Linked DNA regions of Homo sapiens. The main gene of each other region encodes a partner of the protein of the gene in region 2 in a complex. Each region holds a gene or a part of one and is shown on either strand. Other genes may lie near its edges. A codon is read from its position in the direction of its gene.

Evidence for each region. The genes of interacting proteins can lie anywhere in the genome.
Region 1: the proteins of GNA13 (region 2) and GPR35 are in contact, whole or in part, in a cryo-EM structure (PDB 8H8J), measured with the Homo sapiens proteins. Residues at the interface, in NP_006563.2 of Homo sapiens: Lys46, Arg47, Leu48, Val49, Lys214, Asn215, Val216, Phe218, Arg331, Gln337, Gln338, Lys340, Pro341, Leu342, Tyr343, Phe359, Arg360, Asp361, Lys363, Asp364, Ile366, Leu367, His368, Asn370, Leu371, Lys372, Gln373, Leu374, Met375, Leu376; in NP_005292.2 of Homo sapiens: Phe45 (codon at 4,291), Gln51 (codon at 4,273), Thr53 (codon at 4,267), Thr55 (codon at 4,261), Met59 (codon at 4,249), Asp113 (codon at 4,087), Arg114 (codon at 4,084), Ala117 (codon at 4,075), Val118 (codon at 4,072), Pro121 (codon at 4,063), Leu122 (codon at 4,060), Arg123 (codon at 4,057), Arg125 (codon at 4,051), Arg128 (codon at 4,042), Ala197 (codon at 3,835), Leu198 (codon at 3,832), Arg201 (codon at 3,823), Pro202 (codon at 3,820), Thr204 (codon at 3,814), Asp205 (codon at 3,811), Gly207 (codon at 3,805), Gln208 (codon at 3,802), Ala211 (codon at 3,793), Ala215 (codon at 3,781), Met218 (codon at 3,772), Val219 (codon at 3,769), Ala280 (codon at 3,586), Lys281 (codon at 3,583), Glu282 (codon at 3,580).

Annotation. Positions count from the first base shown.
Region 1 is NC_000002.12:240,626,816-240,634,375, reverse strand, and holds the end of GPR35 (G-protein coupled receptor 35), read right to left. Parts: intron 4,428-7,560; coding exon of another isoform or gene 4,424-4,427; coding exon 3,494-4,423; 3' UTR 1,217-3,493; downstream 1-1,216. UniProt on the Homo sapiens protein: G-protein coupled receptor that binds to several ligands including the tryptophan metabolite kynurenic acid (KYNA), lysophosphatidic acid (LPA) or 5-hydroxyindoleacetic acid (5-HIAA) with high affinity, leading to rapid and transient activation of numerous intracellular signaling pathways.
Region 2 is NC_000017.11:65,007,809-65,013,140, forward strand, and holds the end of GNA13 (guanine nucleotide-binding protein subunit alpha-13), read right to left. Parts: 3' UTR 1,481-5,332; downstream 1-1,480. UniProt on the Homo sapiens protein: Guanine nucleotide-binding proteins (G proteins) are involved as modulators or transducers in various transmembrane signaling systems.

The DNA.
Region 1 (7,560 bases), on a different chromosome or scaffold from region 2:
TGCAAGAGGTGGGCTCCCATGACCTTGGGCAGCTCTGCCTCTGTTGTTTTTCAGGGTACAGCCTCCCTTCCAGCTGCCTTCACAGGCTGGTGTTGAGTGTCTGTGGCTTTTCCAGGTGCATGGTTCAAGCCATCAGTGGATCTACCATTCTAGGGTCTGGAGGATGGTGGCCTTCTTCTCACAGTTCCAGTAGCAGTAGGCAGTGCCCCAGTGGGGATTGTGTGGGGGGGCTCCAACCCCACATATCACTTCTACACTGCCCTAGCAGAGGTTCTACATGAGGGTTCCACCAGTGCAGCAAACTTCTGTGTATCTGCAGGCCCAACACCACATGTAAGCCACCAAGGCTTGGGGCTTGCACCTCTGAAGCAAAGGTCTAAGCTGTACATTGGCCCCTTTTAGCCACTGCTGGGATGTGGGGCACCAAGTCCTGAGACTGCACAAACCAGCAAGGCCCTGGGCCCCAACGACAAAACCATTTTTTCCTCCTAAGCCTCCAGGCCTGTGATGGGTGGGGTTGCTGTGAAGACCTCTGACATGCCCTGGAGACATTTCCCTCATTGTCTATGCTATTAACATGTGGCTCCTAGTTACTTATGCAAATTTCTGCAGCTGGCTTGAATTTCTCCTCAGAAAATGAGTTTTTCTTTTCTATCCCATAGTCAGGATGCAAATTTTCTAAACTTTTATGCTCTGCTTCCCTTTTAAATGTGAGTTCCAATTCCAAATCATCTCTTTGTGAATGCATAAAATTGAATGCTTTTAAGAGCACTCTTGAATGCTTTGCTGCTTAGAAATTTCTTCTGCCAGATACCCTAAATCATCTCTCTCACATTCAAAGTTCCACAGATCTCTAAGGCAGGGGCAAAATGCTGCCAATCTCTTTGCTAAAGCATAGCAAGAATCACCTTTATTCCAGTTTCCAGCAAATTCCTCATCTCCATCTGAGACCACCTCAACCTGGAATTCATTGTCCATATCCCTATCAGCATTTTGATCAAAGCCATTCAACAAGTCTCTAGGAAGTTCCATACTTTCCCACATCTTTCTGTCTTCTTCTGAGCCCTCCAAACTGTTCCAACCTCTGACTATTACCCGGTTCCAAAGTTGCTTCGACATTTTTGGGTATCTTTACAGCAGCACCCCACTCTCTGTGGTACCAATTTACTGCATTCGTCTGTTTTCATACTGTTATAAAGAACTGCCCAAGACTGGGTAATTTTAAAGGAAAGAGGTTTAATTGACTCACACTTCAGCATGGCTAGGGAGGCCTCAGGAAACTTACAATCATGGCAGAAGGTGAAGGGGAAGCAAGGAACCTTCTTCATAAGACAGTAGGAAGGAGAAGTGAAGGGAAGAGCCCCTTATAAAACCATCAGATCTCATGAGAACTCACTCACTATCATGAGAACAGCATGTGGGAAACAGCCCCCATGATCCAATTGCCTCCACCTGGTCTCTCCCTTGACACATGGGGACTATGGTTATTATAGGGATTACAATTCAAGATGAGATTTGGGTGGAGACACAAAGCCTAACCATATCAGCCCTCCTGGGTATGGACTCTTCTGGACATGGACCTTCCTGGGCATGGACACTTTTAGGCATGGGGCCCTCCTGTGCATGAACTGGCCTGGGCATGGACCCTCCTGGGCATGGGCCTTCCTGGGCATGAGGATCTCATGGGCATGGCCCTTACTGGGCATGGACCCTCATGGGCATGGGGTTCTCCTTGACATGGTCCTTCCTGGGCACAGGGCTCTGTTGTGTATGGGCCCTCCTAGGCATGGACCTTTCTGGACATGAACCCTCCTGGGCATGGACCCACCTCAGCATGGACCCTCCTGGGCATGGAACCTCCTTGACATGGACCCTCCTGGGCTGGACCTTCCTGGGCATGAACGCTCCTTGACATGGGCCCTTCTGGTAATGGATCTTCCTAGGCAGGGACACTCCTGGGCATGAACCCTCCTAGGCATGAATCTTTCTTGACATGGAGCCTCCTGGGCATGGAGCCTCCTGGACAGGGACACTCCTGGACATGTATCCTCCTGAGCACAGGGCCCTCTGTGCACGTGACTCTCCCGGGCATGGGGCCCTCCAGGGCATAAACTCTCCTGGGCATGAACCCTCCTGAGCATGGACCCTTCCAGGCATGGGACCCTCCTGGACATAGACCCCCCCCAACCAGGCATGGACACCCTTGCGTATGGACCCTCCCGGACATGGGACCCTTTTGGGCATAGAGCCCTCCTGGGCACGGGACCCTCCTGGGAATGAGGCCCTCCTGCTCATGGACCATCCTGGGCATGGACCTTCCTGGGCATGGGCCCACCTGGGCATGCACCCTTTTAGGCACAGAGCCCTTATGGGGCTCTCCTGGGCATGGGCCCTCCGGAGCCTGGGTCCTGTGAGATGCCATCAGCCGCATGCTTGTGCCATGTCCCTGCCAGAACATGACTGCCATCTCTCTCCAGTCCTGTGGAACATGGAACAGGGTGGGGCGGTGCCTGTGGACATGCAATATGGGATGACAGGATGGGGTTTGAGCCCAGGCCGTGCTGGCCCACACTCACAGGAGGTCTCTGGAGTGCCCTGTCCTTCCAGCTTGGGTTTCGAGATGCCCTCCATGCAGGAGTACAGGAGAGGCAGAAACCAGCAGGACATCGTGCCTTTACCTGAGTGGGCACCCAACCCCTGCCCCTGCCAGACATGGTTTCCAGCCTTTCCCTGAAGGAAGGAGAAGAGGGCTGGGTTCCTTGACAGACCCTGGCCACCCCCTTCACTGCCACCCACCCCAACCCACCCTCACCTGCTTGACCTTGGTCACCCCCCCTTGCACCGCTGTGCAGCCCCTACATGGAGATCAGCTGCTCCCAGCCCTGTCTTGAGCAAGGAAACCTGGGCTGGGGGCCTCTACTGTGGTCCTGCCAGGAGCTTCCAACAGCCCCTGCTCACGCTCCAGGTGGGTGGGGGTGGGAAGGGGTGAAAGGGTCCAAGGGGGACCTCAAAGTGAAGAGCCCCGAAGGGTCCCTGGAAGATGTCCGCCAGCCCTCTGAGCCACGCGCTCCCTCCCTGCCTCCCACCACACGAGTGCGAAACACAGAGGGCCCCACTAGGACTGACTCTGGGTGGGGAGTTTTATTCCAGCCCCGAGGGGCAGCGGCAGGTGTCATCAAGGCTGCACCCTGGCCAGCAGGAACCCACTCTGGCCAGGTGAGCTGGTTCTGGGGGTGGCAAGTGTGAGGCCCCATCCCGGGGGTCTCTGACATTGGCCTTGCTCTGGCCTCAGTCCTCTTGCCCTTGTCCCTGTCCCTCTCTCTTCCCAAGAGAGCAGGTACCTGGGCCGTCCCTGCCCACCCAAGGCTCCAAGAGAATACACAGTGAGTTCAGGGCTGATCTCGGGCTCCTTGCTACTGGTTCCAGCTTCCCCTGGCAGGCAGCACCTCCCGGAGCCCCCGAGACCTGGCCCACAGCGCCCACAGCACGCCTCTTAGGCGAGGGTCACGCACAGAGAGTCCTGGCTTTTGTGGGCCTTAGCACTGGGAGCCACGGCCAGTGCAGACGCCTCCTGGAACTCCTTGGCCATGTAGTAGTAGCAGATGGCGTCCAGGCAGCAGTTGGCATCTGAGAGCTTGCTGGTTATGTACAGGGCGCGACGGATCGTCTCCAGGAGGGCACAGGCGTTCCAGCCCACTGCGAGGCGCACTGTCAGCCCCACGTGCAGGGGCAGGAAGCAGACCACGAACACCAGGAGGTTGGCCCAGACCATGCGGGCAGCCTTGCGGGTGGCCTCTGCCTGCCCCACGTCGGTGGGTGGCCTCTGGGCCAGGGCAGTCACCACCTTCAGGGAGCAGAAGACCACCACGGCCAGGGGCAGGTAGAATCCCAGCAGCGGGAACGCCATGGAGTTGAAATTGTGCCGGGTGCTCCTGAAGCAGAAGCCGCCCTCCTGAATCCCCAGGAGCCAGCGAGCCACCAGGGAGCCGATGACCAGCACCCAGAGGACCGCGCACACGGCCGCAGCCTGCCTGGGGGACCGCAGCCCGCGGGCACGCAGCGGGTGCCGCACGGCCACATAGCGGTCCACGGCGATGGCCGTGACCAGGCTGATGCTCATGTACCTGTTGGTCAGGTAGATGCCCTGGGAGAGCTGGCACAGCGGCGTGTCTGAGGTGTCTCGCAGGGAGTGCAGCACGAAGGGCAAGGTGCACAGCAGGCAGAGGTCGGCCACCGCCAGGTTGGTCATGTAGATGCGGGTCTCCGTCCACTGCTGCATGCGGCAGCAGAACACCCAGAGCGCCAGGCTGTTGAGCAGCAGGCCTAGCACCAGCAGGACGCCCAAGTAGGCGTAGAAGCCCAGCTTGATCGCTGGGGGCCAGGTGAGGTCGCTGGAGCCACAGGTGTTGTAGGTGCCATTCATGGTCCTGGGGCAGCACAGGGAGCCGGAGGTCAGCAGAGAGTGAGCAGGGGGAGCAAGGCACTGCCCCCACTCTGCCCACCTCTGGGCAGGGATGTGGGAGGAGGTGAGCCCCGACCCCACACCCACAAACACAAAACTCCTCAAAGAAAGCATGGGTGCCGTAAAGAACTCCAAGTCACCCTTGAGGTCTAACCCCTGGACAGATCCTCTTCCCATCTCCTGAGCTCTTCTCTCCTGGGATCTGCCTGCTGTCATGGGGCAGGAAAGGAGGCAGAAGGAGCTCCACGTTCCCCTCCAGTCCCCAGCCCAGCAAGCCCTACCCTCCAGAGCGCAAATCCTGGACAGGGAGCCCAAAGGGCCACCAGCCTTACCCAGCACACAGCTCTTAGCAGGGAGGGCTCAGAGGCAGCAGCACCTGTCAGCCCAAGGACGGGAAGACCAGGCTCCCGGACAAAGCCCAGGGTGGCCCCTCCACCCCTCCTGGCACCCGGCTGCAGGAGGCACCCACATTTGACTCCACACCTGCATCAGCCCTTCCCCACAGCAGAGTCCAGGACAGCTGGGACTCTGGCCTGCCCCTACCTCCCTGTGAGCCCACCCACCCAGTCCTGAGCTCTGGAGGTCCTGCCTGCATCAGCCTGAGGCCCCATCCCAGTCCCACACCTGGGATCAGGGATTCACCCCTTGAGCTCCCAGGGGCCAGAGCCTGTGACGGCAGCCCTGCCCCTTCAGGCCCAGTCGTGCTGCTCAGGGGCCGCCCAGGGGTGGAGCTGAGTATCCTCCTCTCCGTCACTATCAGGACCACCCACAAAGTCACCCCTCCACTGTCCACGCCAGCCTCTCGCTGTCCCCAACACCCTCCGCGACATAGCCCAGGAAGGCTGAGACCAGCCCCGGCTGGACCTGGGCAGGGTCTGGTGTCCAGGACACGGGCTAGAGTCATCCTGACTCGGCCACCCCTGCAGCTGGGCAAACTTGTTTCCTCATCATAAGGGGTGCTGGTGTCACACGCAGGCAGGTGTGAGACGGAGCTGCTGGTGAGCGCCCAGAGTCCAGGACTCACAGCCACACGTCCCACCACCTGGGTTACTCAGTGGGTCCAGGAAGAACCCGGAGGGGTGAGGGCGGGAGAAGCCTCTCCCCCAACCATCAGGCTGTCCTCTGGGGCATCCTGCAGTGGCTTCCTGCTGGGCTGGTATGGAAGGTGGGAAGGACTCAGCCCACAGCGAAGGGCCTTCCTCCTCCCTCTGCCTCCTCCCTCTGCCCAGAGGAGCACAAAAGGTCCCCCAAATCAGGAGGGGAGAGCGCCCAAACCCCGTGACTGCAGCTGCTGGGGACCATTAGTGCTGGGACGCATTTCCCCACGGTGGTCCCCGGGAACTCCAGGTCCCCAGTCCATGAGGGATGGAGGGCACAGGTTTCAGACAGAAACGAAACATTCTGCCCCCTGGCTTCATTCTGTCTCCTTAGATCCCACCTCTGGTGAAGTACAGCAGATATTTGCTGACTTCCAAGTTTCAGGAGCCCTTCCCCCGAGTGCAAAGTGCTGCACGCCCAGTGGTCTCTCTCCTCCCTTCTTGAGGGTCCTGCTTGCTTTCTCTCTGATTCATGAGCAACACTTCACCCTCGTTCCAGGGACTTTTGGAGGGACCCTGAGCCAGGCCAGGCTCCGAGGACATCCCCAGAACCCACTGGAACCAATCGCTGGGATCTTCCCTTCCTGTTGGGCCTATACTCCTGTGGCAGCCCCCGCTGGGGGCCAGGAGATCCCAGAACCTGCTCAGAATCTACACCTCAGAGGCACCTGAGCTGGGCAGGCACTGTGCGTTGGGGAGGGCTCCGTGCGACTGGCCTCCTACTCTCCCCACCTGAGTACTTGAATCCACCAGAAGTCCAGGGCCAGCCTTGGGCGGTGTGCAGACCTGGAGGGGGAGGGGGTCTGCACAGCTAGAGGGCGATTCTTTTGCTGCCCCACCTTGAGTAGAGGCAGCCTGGGACCCTGCCTCGTGGGAGGTGAGGACCCGAGGGCTCGTGTGCCTAGACCCCTTCCCATTGCCCCAGCTTCCCCCATCGCTCCCCATGGCTGCCAAGGGGCTCTCAGGTCACACATACCCAGGGCTGCAACTTTCATACTAGCCTCGGTGTGGCCCAGTATTTTGTGGGGGAATGTTTAACTGCAGGCAGGCACGGTGGCTCATGCCTGTAATCCCAACACTTTGGGAGGCTGAGACAGGAGGATGACTTGAGGCCAGAAGTTTAAGAACAACCTGGGCATCACAGGGAGACCCCGTCTCTACAAAAAAAAAAAAAAAAAAAAAAAAAAAGACAGAAAATTAGCTGGGCTGGTGATGCGTGCTACTCGGGAGGCTGAGGCAGGAAGACGGCTTGAGCCCAGGAGGTTGAGGCTGAAGTGAGCTATGATCCCACCACTGCACTCCAGCCTTAGGAGACAGAGTGAAACCCCATCTCTAAGAAGAAGAAAAAAACTCTAACTACAACATTTAAATTTTCCTGTTTATAATAAAACAAACACTGAACTATTAGGGAGAAAAATGCAAATGTTGCAAGAGTTTCGAGGTGCACGTAGGCTTCGAAGAAGTGCCCTGTTCATGGGTCCTTGTCTCGCCCGTGGAGTGCCTCCCAGAAAAGTTCAGGAAATCAAGGCCCAGGCTTTAGCCCAGATGGCATGGGGCCCCTGGGAGCTAACATGGCCAGCACAGATGCCCACCTACTGCCCCAGTCCCGCACAGGAATCTGTGTCCAGGCCGTGGACCGTAGCTGGCCTCCCGCCTCAGCTCCTCAGGCCTGTCTTCCTCGACAGACACCAGCACCATCAGCCTCAGGGAGCTCCCGCTGCCGGGGACCGTGGGGATGGGGCCCTTCCACTTCCTGCCCAGGAGGCTTTGGGGATTGGAGCCAGCAGCACGCCTCTGAGGCCCCGCTTCCCCTTCTGATGACAAGGTCACCCTCGGCTTCTGCACACAAAAGCAGAAAAGTGCCCTTTGATTCTGCACTGAGTGATCCAGGAGAGAAACCTGGCCATAGACGGGCGATCCAGCCACACCAGAGCCCCTCCCCAGCCCTTCCCCCTGTCTGGACCCGGGACCCGCCCAGACCCCAGAGTGCCTGGCTGGCCT
Region 2 (5,332 bases):
TTGGCTCACTGCAACTTCCACGGCCTCCCGAGTAGCTGGGGGACTACAGGCCCATGCCACCATGCCCACCTAATTTTTGTAAAGACGGGATTTCACCATGTTGCCCAGGCTGGTTTCAAACTCGTGAGCTCAAGTGATCCGCCAGCCTTGGCCTCCCAAAGTGCTGGGATTACAAGCGTGAGCCACCACGCCCAGCCATAGCTTTCAATACATGCCAGGTAAGAAAAGGCATAAAGATGCCAAGTGATTTGACAACTGCTAACTTAGCAGGAAAGCGTAAAGGGAAAAGATGAGTAGTAACCACAGAAGGTGTGCTTGACACGATTTGATAATGATACTTTCTCTCTCTGGTTCCCAGACCCATAACCCAGTCTAATCATGTGAAAAACACCAAATTTCAACAGATGGGCATTCTACAAAATACCTGACCAGTACTCCTCAAAACTGCCAAAGTCCTCAAGCCTCTAATCCCAGCAATTTGGGAGACCGAAGCAGGCAAATCGCTTGAGCTCAGGAGTTCCAGACCAGCCTGGGCAACATGGCGAAACTCTGTCTCTACTAAAAATACAAAAAGTAGCTGGGTGTGGTGGCACGCACCTGTAATCCCAGCTACTTGGGTGGCTGAGGCAGGAGAATCACTTGAACCTGGGAGGTGGGGGTTGCAGTGAGCTGAGATCGGGCCACTGCACTCCAGCCTGGGTGACAAAGGAGTGAGACCCTGTCTCAAAAAGAAAAAACAAACAAAAAACACCTGCCAAAGTAATCAAAAACAAAGTCTGAGATAAACAGGAGTCTGTTAACTACCAAGAAGAGCTGAAGGAGACATGACGAGCGAATGTAATGTCGTGTGCTGGATGGATCCTGGAACACAAGTAAGGCATTAGGGGAAAACTAAGGAAACAAGAACAAAGCATGGGCTTTAGTGAATAATGTTATCAGTATTGGTTCATTAATTATGACAAATGTACCAAAGTAATGCAAGGCGGTAACTACGGGAACTATTATAAGGGGTGTGGAGTATAGGGGAACTCTGTACTGTCTTGAAATTTTTCTGTAAATCATAATCTAACATGAAGTTTATTTTTTTAAAAAAGATGAGTGGTCAATGTTGGTTTGTCTCCAAACATTAATTACAACAGACGTAACAGAATTATTAATATTGTCGCAGCTGGATGAACTGAGCTCAGGTACACCCTAATACAGTTTCAGTGGCCATAAGAGGAGCAGAGAAAACAAGTGGTTTCTCTTCCCCTATTCCCTTGTCAAAACATATTAAGTGTCTGAGAACTTCCTTGGAAGAAGTCCACATCTCCATTTCTAGTAAGAAGTTTCTAGACTAATATTCAAGCCAAGTGGCATTGGGATTCTGCTGAAGTAGATTTGTGCCTTAACTCAGGCCCTAGATGAAACTTTTGCTTTCAAACTTTTAGTATCTGCTTTACATTTTACAATTACCAAACTGTTAAATAACATCATAGTATTGAATTGTTTACAAATGTTTATTAAATGTCAGTAATTTTTACAAAGCAAATATTAATAGCAAGAGGCAAATGTTTTGCAAAATATGTACAAAAGTAAAAAGCTGTAATGAACTAGCAACTCATTTTATAAAATCAAACCATTCTTTCCACTTTTAGACCTCCTTTAGAAATAATTTATTGCCCATCCTGAACTAAAGCACTGACAAAAAAATTTACAACAATTATCAGATAATGTGCTTAGTTCCTGGAAAGTTATAAAAAGATATATGTAAAAAAAAAATCCTAAGCCACAAATATTTTATAGAGCTAATACGAGTCATGTTTTGTTAGGTACAGTATCTACGGGGTTATTACAAAATATACTTTTTTATAAGGCTTCTTGTGGTAAATGAGCTCTCACCAGAGTAGAGTAGTTTAGAAAAGCCATTTCAAACGTTTTGCGATTCTGCCTTCAAGTAAGAGGTAAAAGGTAAATGGCATAGTTTGTTGCACTGTTGCTTATACTGTGCAAGAATTAATCTCTACCCCTTTCTTTCCTAGTACCATCAAACAGGCATGATTAAGGACAATTTCTCACTTACTATGGCAAAAAATATTATATACAAGCTTTCTTAACACAAACCAAAGTCACATACCAAGTAGTATATGACGTTCAGTGATATTCACTGACTGAAATTTTATGCACACTGAGTTCCAGCATACTCTGATCCACCTGTAAACTTTCATCATCAACAGCAGATTTGTATATGTCACAAAACTCTCCTTATCAAGACATAAAATATTGCCATATCATTCATGCTTTCAAAACAATGTTCATATAAGCTCTCGCATTTGAAACCAGATGGTAAGACCTGAATGCTACAAGAGTGAACATAACTTAAATGCTAACTACACGTTCAAGTACAGACATAAGAATGCTAGTGGTACAAACACTGTACTCCAAATGATGTTGTTAATCACCTACCAGCCTAAGACTAGTATCTACTTGATGGAACTTGAAAAAGCCATAAAGTCCAACTTGTTTAAAATGTTCAGACTTAGACTTACACTTCAAGATCTAGTATACATTTATTAATAAGCCCTAACCTCGTACCATAAAAAAATGGGCATGTGCTGTATTTGGGACATGCGGACACACCCACACCCACCCACAATCTCTCCCCTCCTCATGTTTACTAGACTGAAAAGCCACCCTGTATCCTATCATTAAAAAACAAAACAAAACAAAACAAAACAGTGCTTTTAGTCAAGCAGCACAACACAAGGACAGATCATCTGTGATTAACAGAAGCGAACGCCTTAAAATGATGGGAGAGAGACAAATTAACTAGGTACTAAGTCAGATTTCCAAGTGAAAAAGACATGAGCAAAACTTCTGGTCTTAATTTCTCAAATAAAACTAAAATAAATGAAATGGTAACAGAGTGACTTTCTCTAAATTTATTAGGGAGTTTGTTACAAATGTTTGGGCTTTACAGGCATGATTTCACGGATTCAAACAAGAAATTAACACTGATATTTAGCCTTCTCATGACATACACAGAAATAACATTGCTACAAACTGCAATGGAGAGAATCTTGTTTCAAATGGCTTAGTTTGGGGTTTTGTCTAAATGTATCATTATATAATGAAAGCACCAATTTGAGGGTTTCTCAAATAGTGATTTGAATTTTAGGACATAACAGTGTAACATGGTAACTTTATTCTTCATATATAAATAAGGCATAATCGGATGTGTATTAATGCTGAAAATACATTTTATCAAAAGCATAAATACAAGTATTTGGGTACACATTGAAAGTTAGGACTTAACCAATTTCTTCTTACAAAAAATGATAAGGACATATGGTATTTGTTGAATCTAAATCAGCACTTCTAATCATTTCTGGTATTAAGGCGATCTTATTTCCTTCTACTTTAAACCAACCACTGCCACCAACTGAATAAGGATTTCCCTAAACAGCCTCAATTTGAGAGACTAACCAGAGGACCTTCTCTATGCAAATTACATGCCAATACACCTTAAAAGAAAATAAGACAAAAGTGAATGAGTTTTTTCATTCCATATTGCTTTCTTTGGTTGCAGAGCAATCCAGTGCCCTTTCCAGATAATAAAATTGAAATGAAGATTTCAATTTAATATTTGGCAGACAGCAACAATGCAGGTTATTAAAAATATTAAAGGGGCAGAGGCATGCTTTGAATTACTCAGATTTTCAGAAAACATTTGACAAAACCCTTTCTCTATAAAAGTTATGGTCTAAATTTATGTTGTTTTATAAGGCAACTGTATATACATTTCTTCAAGGTCAATGAAGACACTTGTGTGATATTTCCTCAGAATTAAATGAGAAGGCATTCAGATTTAAGAACAGAATGTAACACAGGATTAGGCACATTTTATTCCAAATCATAACCATAAAGATTTAGAAAATCAAATACATCAAAGAACTTTAAATCTAAATTACTTTTTTAGAGACTGGGGTAAGTTTGCATAGTGAAATTATGAGCACCTTTTCAATTCTGTTCACTAAATTTCATCTCTCTCTTCATATAGTGGTATTTCAAAAGGATTCAGTTTTCATGATACAGGTGTAAGACTCCTTTCAAACGTTTTTAAAATACAACGTATAAAAAAATGTGGACTGAAGCCTTTAGATTGAACTTAAAGTTCTACTGAATGTCAAAACAAGCCTAAGTTGAATATAAGTAATTCATTGCCTCAAAATATAGTCTAGATTTTAAAAGAATGTTGATTCTGAGACATTACATGCAGCAGGGAAGAAAACTGCAAATGCCCAAAATAACATGATATCTATTTGGTGTTTCAACACTTCTTGGTGGTAATTCAAAAGGGGGAAACTTGGTGATTTCTGCTTTGTCAGGCAATATCTATGGTTCGTATCACAGATCTTAACTATGACTTAAGTAAGATGAAGTGTCCTCTTTCTATAGGGATCTAACTTGAGCCCTCACTGGAGTCAAATGTTTTGGCCATTCAATTTGCTAAATGTATGGGTAAACTCTCCAATGAATAGTCCAAATGTTACTGTGCACATATTCCGATATTCATTAGCACTGCAATTATGCTAATTTTGTGAATTTAAACAATGTATTCTTTTTGGCAAGAAGCACTAGATGTAGAACTATTCAAACACGCATGAATGATACCATGATACCACGAACATGCACGATACCATGAACTTGCATCACGGTGCCGGGCTACGTATGTGTAGCTCATGGATTACCATGGCATGAAAATGCTAGAAGTTATATGGATACAATGATAGTGGAAGTTCAAATGTGAGAAAAGTCAGGTATGTCAAGAACAATCCCTGGTTAGTTCACTGAAAAGCCCCACTCTCGTATCAGACAGCAAGACAGAACAACAGCCACTGACTTGGAAAGGCTGGGTGATCCATAACGACCAATCTTTCAAGGACCAATAAAATACCTGAGTACACAGTCAGCTATACAGTAAAATGACAGATATCACAGTCTTAAAATTTTCAGGAAAAGTAGAAAAGCTGTCAGACTTTTCAAGCTGTCGCCAGCCTTGGACTTCTGTTTCTCTAATTGTAGCACTACATACAGCCTAGAAGATAGTATTTCAGTACTGCAAACCAGCCATTCTGATGAGTTCACTATGAATGTATCTGCGATCACAAAGCTACTTCGTGGACACATTTTAATTTGGTAAGCAGTCGGGGGAGGTCAATGTAATCATCTTTAGGTGCGAACTAAAAAAATTACTACTGATCCTTAGAAGCATCCTTAAAACATTTAAAATATACCTCAAAAAAGCTGGACTTTCAACAACAACAATTATACAAATGTATACATACTGTAT